Homo sapiens: one gene and its partner. The protein of the gene in region 2 purifies or fractionates together with the protein of the main gene of each other region. This does not show direct contact. Each region holds a gene or a part of one and is shown on either strand. Other genes may lie near its edges.

Region 1 (3,500 bases), on a different chromosome or scaffold from region 2:
CTAGCACTTTGGGAGGCCAAGGTGAGTGGATCATCTAAGGTCAGGAGTTCAAGACCAGCCTGGCCAACATGGTGAAACCCGTCTCTACTAAAATACAAAAATTAGCCGGGCATGATGGCAGATGCCTGTAATCTCAGCTACTGGGGAGGCTGAGATGGGAGAATCACTTGAACCCGGGAGACAGTGATTGCAGTGAGCTGAGATCGCGCCACTGCACTCCAGCCTGGGCGGCTGAGGTGAGACTCCATCTCAAAAAACAAAATAACTAAATGTTAAAGTAGGTGATTTTGACTCAGTGTGAGTTGAATGGATGTAATATGGCCTCTCTTTATATTTTGCTACTTCTAGTACTTGAAATTTTAGAACAAGAGCCTTTCTCTATAGATCATCTATTACTAATTCATAATTCAGCATGATATTTATAATAGAAATGGTTTAAAAAGATGCCTATATCTTTAGTTCTTATTCAAATAATATTAGAGAATTTCTGTCCTCTTTTTTTTTTTCTTCTGCTTTTTAATGATTTCACTTACTAGCATCACCTCCAAAGAGAGATAACACTTATTTCACTTATTTGGTCCTTGTTGCTTTTTTTTTTTTGAGACGGAATCTCACTCGGTCGCCAGGCTGGAGTGCAGTGGCGCAGTCTCGGCTCACTGCACTCTCCGCCTCCCAGTTTCAAGCGATTCCCCTACCTCAGCCTCCCAAGTAGCTGGGATTACAGGCGCCTGCCACCACGCCCGGCTAATTTTTTGCAGTTTTAGTAGAGACGGGGTTTCACCCTGTTGGCCAGGATGGTCTCAATCGCTTGACCTTGTGATCCACCTTCCTCGGGCTCCCAAAGTGCTGAGATTACAGATCTGAGCCACTGTGCCCTGACGTTCCTTTTTTTATTAACACTAATAAGCAGCTCCAGTTAAGACAGACAGAAATAAGTACCTGATGCATAAGCACAGCATATCTTTATAAAGCTCTCTTTATACCTCCCCTCCCACATTTGTATCTATAATTAGAAATTTGATCAACACTGTTAACTGTTAACCTCTGATAGAGCAAAGTTGAGGCCTAATTACAACATAAGTCTGAAGAATGCTAATTGTTTTCCATGACCATAATCACCCAGTATCTCATGTAAGTTTATGTATCAGGTACCAGGAATCAGCTGGTACCATGTCAAAAAACATTGTGTTGGAACCAGTGTTTCTCCTTTGTGTTGTTCTTAATGATGGACTGTTTCAGATGTATCAAAAAAAAATGAGGAATAATATGGCAAGTACCCATTTCTCCCCATCCCCTTAAGAAATTAAACATTAGGGCTAGGCGCGGTGGCTCACGCCTGTAATCCCAACAGTTTGGGAGGCCGAGGCAAGTGGATCATGAGGGCAGGAGTTCGAAACCAGCTTGGCCAATATGGTGAAACCCCGTCTCTACTAAAACTGCAAAAAATTAGCCAGGCATGGTGGTGGGCACCTGTAGTCCTAGCTACTCATGAGGCTGAGTCAGGAGAATCGCTTGAACCCAGGAGGCAGAGGTTGCAGTGAGCCGAGATCATGCCATTTGCACTCTAGCCTGGGCGACAGAGTGAGACTCCATCTCAAAAAAATAAATAATAAAATAAAACATTAAAGACACAATTGAAGCCCCCATGTTCTCCCCAGTTCCTCATTGCAGACCCCATGAAGTAAGTACTAACTTAGCTTTCTCTTAAAACCTTTGTTCTTATAAACTCCATAGAAGTAGTATATGTTTCCTGAAACTTGCTGTGTGCTTCCATTTGTCTAAATCAATGTCGTACTTTGCTATATTCTGTCACACTGGTCCCTTCTCAGGCAGGCCTCTCTGTGTTGCTCTCCAGGTGGTGGTGCCTCCCAAAGAGCTCGTTTTAGCTGGCAAGGATGCAGCAGCAGAGTACGATGAGTTGGCAGAACCTCAAGACTTTCAGGACGATCCTGAGTGAGTGATCTTTTTGTGATCCCCATACAACAAATGGCTGATAATAGAATGCCCACTTATATCCAGTTTTCTTGTCTGGATTTTTTAAAATAACTTTTTTCTTCCTGTTTCTAAAAATAATTATTGTAGAAAATTGGGGAAATATATGTAAGACCATGAAGAAGAAAATAAAATTATCCCACCACCAGAGATAAACACCATTAGCATTTTGGCATTTGTCCTTCCAAATATTTCTCACCTCATTGGGATCATTCTATAAATACAGTTTTTTAGCCTTTTTCACTTGAATATATTTTCCCATGTTAATAAAGAAATTTTTAATTATATGATTTTAATGGTTGTGGACAGGATACAATACTCTGTCCCTAGAGATTGATCATCGGGTTTGTTCCCCACCCCCACCCCCTTGGAGGAATTAATAGATTTTACTCTCTCATATCTAATAACTGAAAAGAACCAAACCTTCCAGTAACTGGGGACTGTGACCATCAGAGAATTCAGTCTGTAGACTGAATGTTTTCAATGATTCGAACAGAGGATTTAATATAAATAATTGTTCACTTGTGTAACTTAAAAAGTGAAAAAGAACACTGAAGTAGCAATTTTATGCTACTTCATGGGCATAAAATTTCAAAGATAGCTATTTGATGAGCCAGCTACCACCCCTTAGGTGGAGGGAACAAAGGGAAATAGTTAGAATTATTAAAATTTAGAACTTAAACAAAGAGCTCCATGTAGCTGAAACTCAGGCCTCCAGTGAGCTGAAGGGGAACACTGCTTGCGTGGTCCTGGCATCTCGTGATGGCAAAGGAGGGGTGGCATGATTATACAAGAATTGGAAAACTTCAACTGCTTACTGCCACTTCCTCCTGGGTAAAGAAGCATTGCTGGGCCGGGCATGGTGGCTTACCCCTGTATTCTCAACACTTTGGGAGGCTGAGGCAGGAGGATTGCTTCACAGGAGTTTGAAACCAGCCTAGGAATAGAGTTAAGACTCCGTCTCTACAAAAAAATTTTAAAAATAGCCAGGTGTAGCAGCGCATGCTTGTAGTCCCAGCTACTCAGGATACCAGGGTGGGAGAATCAGTTGAGCCCGGTAGGCTGAGGCTGCAGTCAGCTGTGATTGTGACTGTACTCCAGCCTGGGCAACAGAGTGATACCCTGTCTCAAAAAAAAAAAGACATTTTTGGAGTGATGGCCACAGGGAACAGGGACCACAAGCAAACAGGAATCTCTAAAGGAAGAGCAAGACCCTTCCTCCTCCAGACTTCTAGTCTCCCTTTAGAGCCCGCTGCTGACAGAACCTGACAAAGAGCCATCCGATCCAGCAGATACAGTCCAAGCAGAATCCTGTGTCACAAAGCAAAATTGAGAGAGGTGCGCTTGGAGCTGAAAAATAATAGCTTAGTAAACTGGCACAGGGAACATTCACAGTCTTTGTTTTGTTTTTAGAGAAGGAGTCTCTGTCGCCCAGGCTGGAGTGCAATGGCGTGATCTCCTGCTCACTGCAACCTCCACCTCCCGAGTTCAAGCAGTTCTCCTGCCTC
Region 2 (3,500 bases):
GACTCTGTCTCAAAAGAAAAAGAAATAGGGGAGAACATGGCTGGAAGGGAAGAGGACGAGTCTGTGGAACTGTGGAAAGAAAGCAGGATGACGTGTTAGGAGTTGTGAGTCTTGATACTGGCTCTTCCACTAGCTATGTAGCACTAAAGCCATTTTGCTCCTCTTGGCTTCCTTCCTAATATTATCAGATAAGCAGGTTAAATAATATCATCTCTAAGGTCCCAGTCAGCTCTGAGACCACAGGACACTAAACATGTCGATCAAAAATAGTGGCTAACAATGATTATGTGGGTGTATATTTACTGAAACATAAAAATCTTCTAAACAAATGGTTGAGTAAAAACAGCAGATGATGAAAGAGCATGTATAATATTATTTTTGTAAATCATGGTTACACATACATAAGCACAGGAAAAAAGTATGGAAAGTTATATGCCAAAATACTTAATGCCCTTATCCTTAGATGGCTTGTATGTAATTGGTTTCGTCTTTTATTTTCTATATTTTTCTACAACAAAGGTGTATTAATATTACTTATGCAGTTAATACACTGTAATTTTTTAAAGCTCAGAGACTGAGCTCAAAGGCTGAATAGAGGAAAGCAAGAAGAATTTCCAGGAGTTGTTTGGGGGATTCCAGTCCACCAGAGTTCTGGTAACTTTTATGAGTACAATTTTGAACGGAAGGAGATGATGTGGTAAACAGAATAAACAGAAAGAATCTGGTTTATTCAGAAACCTAGGGAGCTCATCCTAGATTTAGATAATGAAGTGACATAAAAAGACAGGGATCCTGTGGTTAAGAGCTAGGATAGAAACTACTGAATTAAAAGAGAGTAAACCAGAAAATGTTTGGAAGAAATAAGGAAATACTTTAAACTTGTGTCAAGCTAATGACATAAAATGCTATTATATGCATGTAATTTAACTGTATATATAATAGTATGTATGCAAGTTTTAAATAACCCCAAATTCCCTCATGTAAGAGCATATATAGTTTGTGCTCTTAAACTGCCTGTCTTTATTATTTCTTTTTCATTTTTTTTTTTTTAGAGACAGGCCTCACTGTGTTGTCTAGGCTGGCCTCAAATTTCTGGACTCAAGCTATCCTCCTGCCTTAGCTTCCCAAGTAGCTGGGACTGCAGGTATGCACTGCCACGCCTGGCTTTTATTATTTTAGTAGCTACTGCCAAAATACATCCAAATAGTGATAGCACTTTACACTCTCACTGACGTAAATGGCTATTTCCTCAGGTCATGAATAGTATTAAATTAAATCCATCTTTTCATTTTTTGCTAATCTGATCAGTAAAAGATGTATATCTAATTTTAATTTCCAGTTCTATAATCATTTGTAATGTTCAATATCCTTTCATATAATCAGGAGATAGAAGTGCTGTTTAGGGCCATTATTTTGGAATTGCCTGTCCTTACCCAACTGCTTATTTTCTATTGGGTTGTTTTTTTCCTTACTGATCTCTAGGGGATCTTTGTTTATTAAAAACATTAACTCTTTAACCATCAAATATGTTGCAAATACTTTATTCAATATGATGTCTTTTAGTATGTAGAAGTTTTTCTTTTAAAAATTTAATTAAATCTGCCCATTTTCTTCCTTTATGACTTCCTGAGTTTTATGAAACTGCTTAGGAAGGCTTTCCCCATCCCAATGTAATAAATATATTATCTCATGTTTTCTTTTAATGATTTAATAATTTTGCTTTCTATAGTTATATATTTAAAATCCATTTGGAATGTATTATGAATATGGTGTGAGCTAGAGCCCTAACTTTGTCTTCTTCCAAATAGATAATTATTCCATCACTATTGAATAGACTTTTCCTCCTGACTTAATCTGTTCTACTTATATGTACCTATACTTTGCTATTTTAATGATATATAATTTGTAGTACCTACAGTTTGCCATATTGTGCTCATAGTAACTTTGTAGTATTTTTTACTATCTAATACGGCAAGTATTCCTTTCCCTTTGATCCAGTCAAATGTATACATCATTCATCATTTTCCCAAAAATATTTACAATGTTAGATGTGTATCCTACTGGATGAGATTCTTTAATTAATGTTTTTTTCATATTTTTGAATTTAAAATCCTGGGAGGCATTGCACTGTAATAGTAAGTCTGCCCATCCAGGATCATGCATGTCTTTTCTTTCATTCAAGTCTTATTTTATATCTTTCAGTAAATTTTCATATAGATCTTGTGAATCGAATTATTTTTACATTTCAAATTCAACTAACAATTATTAATAGAAAATGAAAACATTGATTTTTTTCAATATTTATTTTGTGTCCAAGTATATATTAAATATTTTAGTAGACTTTCTTGGATATTTGAAGTATATTCTGCAAATAATAGCATCCTGTGATCCAGCAATCATTTTAGGAATCTATCCTATAGAAATAGCAATGTAGTAGCCTGGTGCGGTGGCTCACGCCTGTAATCCCAGCACTTTAGGAGGCCGAGGTGGGTGGATCACGAGATCAGGAGTTCAAGACCAGTCTGGCCAAGATGGTGAAACCCCGTCTCTACTAAAAATACAAAAATTAGCTGGGCGTGGTGGCAGGCACCTGTAACCCAGCTACTCGGGAGGCTGAGGCAGCAGAATCGCTAGAACCTGGGCAGCAGAGGTTGCAGTGAGCCGAGATCACACCACTGCACTCCAGCCTGGGCAATAGAGTAAGACTCCATCTCAAAAAAAAAAAAAAAAGAAAGAAAGAAATAACAACGTAGACATAAGAATATGTGTGTGTATAAAATATTCATTTCAGCATTGTTCCAAATATAAAAAATATTAAAATAATATGGGAGCCATATAATAAATTATGACATACACATATGCAGTTATTAAATAGCGGGCAATAGAGCTACATGGACTGGTGTAGGAAAGTGGCCATGTATATAGTTACATGAAAAAAAGCAATTTAAAAATATGTATAGCAAGTCCCTTTTCTATAGGTATATTTATATATATACATACACACAAAATGGCATTTAATGCTTATTTAATTTAAATATTTTATTTGTGTGTGTTTGTTTTAAATGTCTGTATAAACATAAGAAAAAGTCATGAAATAAACACACCCAATTTACTAACTCTGAGAGATATGAATTGTAGTGATAGAAAGAGGGTCTTTAGCCTCTTGTAGATAATTTTGCAATAGATGAGTTATGATCTTTTTCCCGTTTTGTGTTTACTTTTCAAACAAAGTCACTGTCTTGAAATTAAGAAATAAAATAGTCGATGCTCCAAACTACCCTACATTACACCTAGTAGGACAGGACCCCTATCTGAGAAGGAAAAATGTGTGCTTTGGATGCTGTTCATTGCAATGGAATGTATTCTCTTGAGGTGAGATTTGGTTCTGTGAGCTCCACTTGTTTCATGGCTGTCTGCTAGATCTTAAGCCTGTCTCTGATACAAAAAAAGAGAAAAGCATCCCAGGGATGTGGCAAATGTCTAAGTTTAGACTACTAATC

Evidence for each region. Proteins that work in one complex are often made in the same cells at the same time.
Region 1: the proteins of C4BPB (region 2) and DCTN4 purify together in Homo sapiens (affinity purification with mass spectrometry; 3 studies listed by BioGRID and IntAct, with this or other methods). This does not show direct contact.

Annotation. Positions count from the first base shown.
Region 1 is NC_000005.10:150,714,018-150,717,517, reverse strand, and holds part of DCTN4 (dynactin subunit 4), read left to right. Parts: intron 1-1,855; coding exon 1,856-1,953; intron 1,954-3,500. UniProt on the Homo sapiens protein: Part of the dynactin complex that activates the molecular motor dynein for ultra-processive transport along microtubules.
Region 2 is NC_000001.11:207,091,860-207,095,359, reverse strand, and holds part of C4BPB (C4b-binding protein beta chain isoform 1 precursor), read right to left. Parts: intron 70-3,500; coding exon of another isoform or gene 1-69. UniProt on the Homo sapiens protein: Controls the classical pathway of complement activation. It binds as a cofactor to C3b/C4b inactivator (C3bINA), which then hydrolyzes the complement fragment C4b.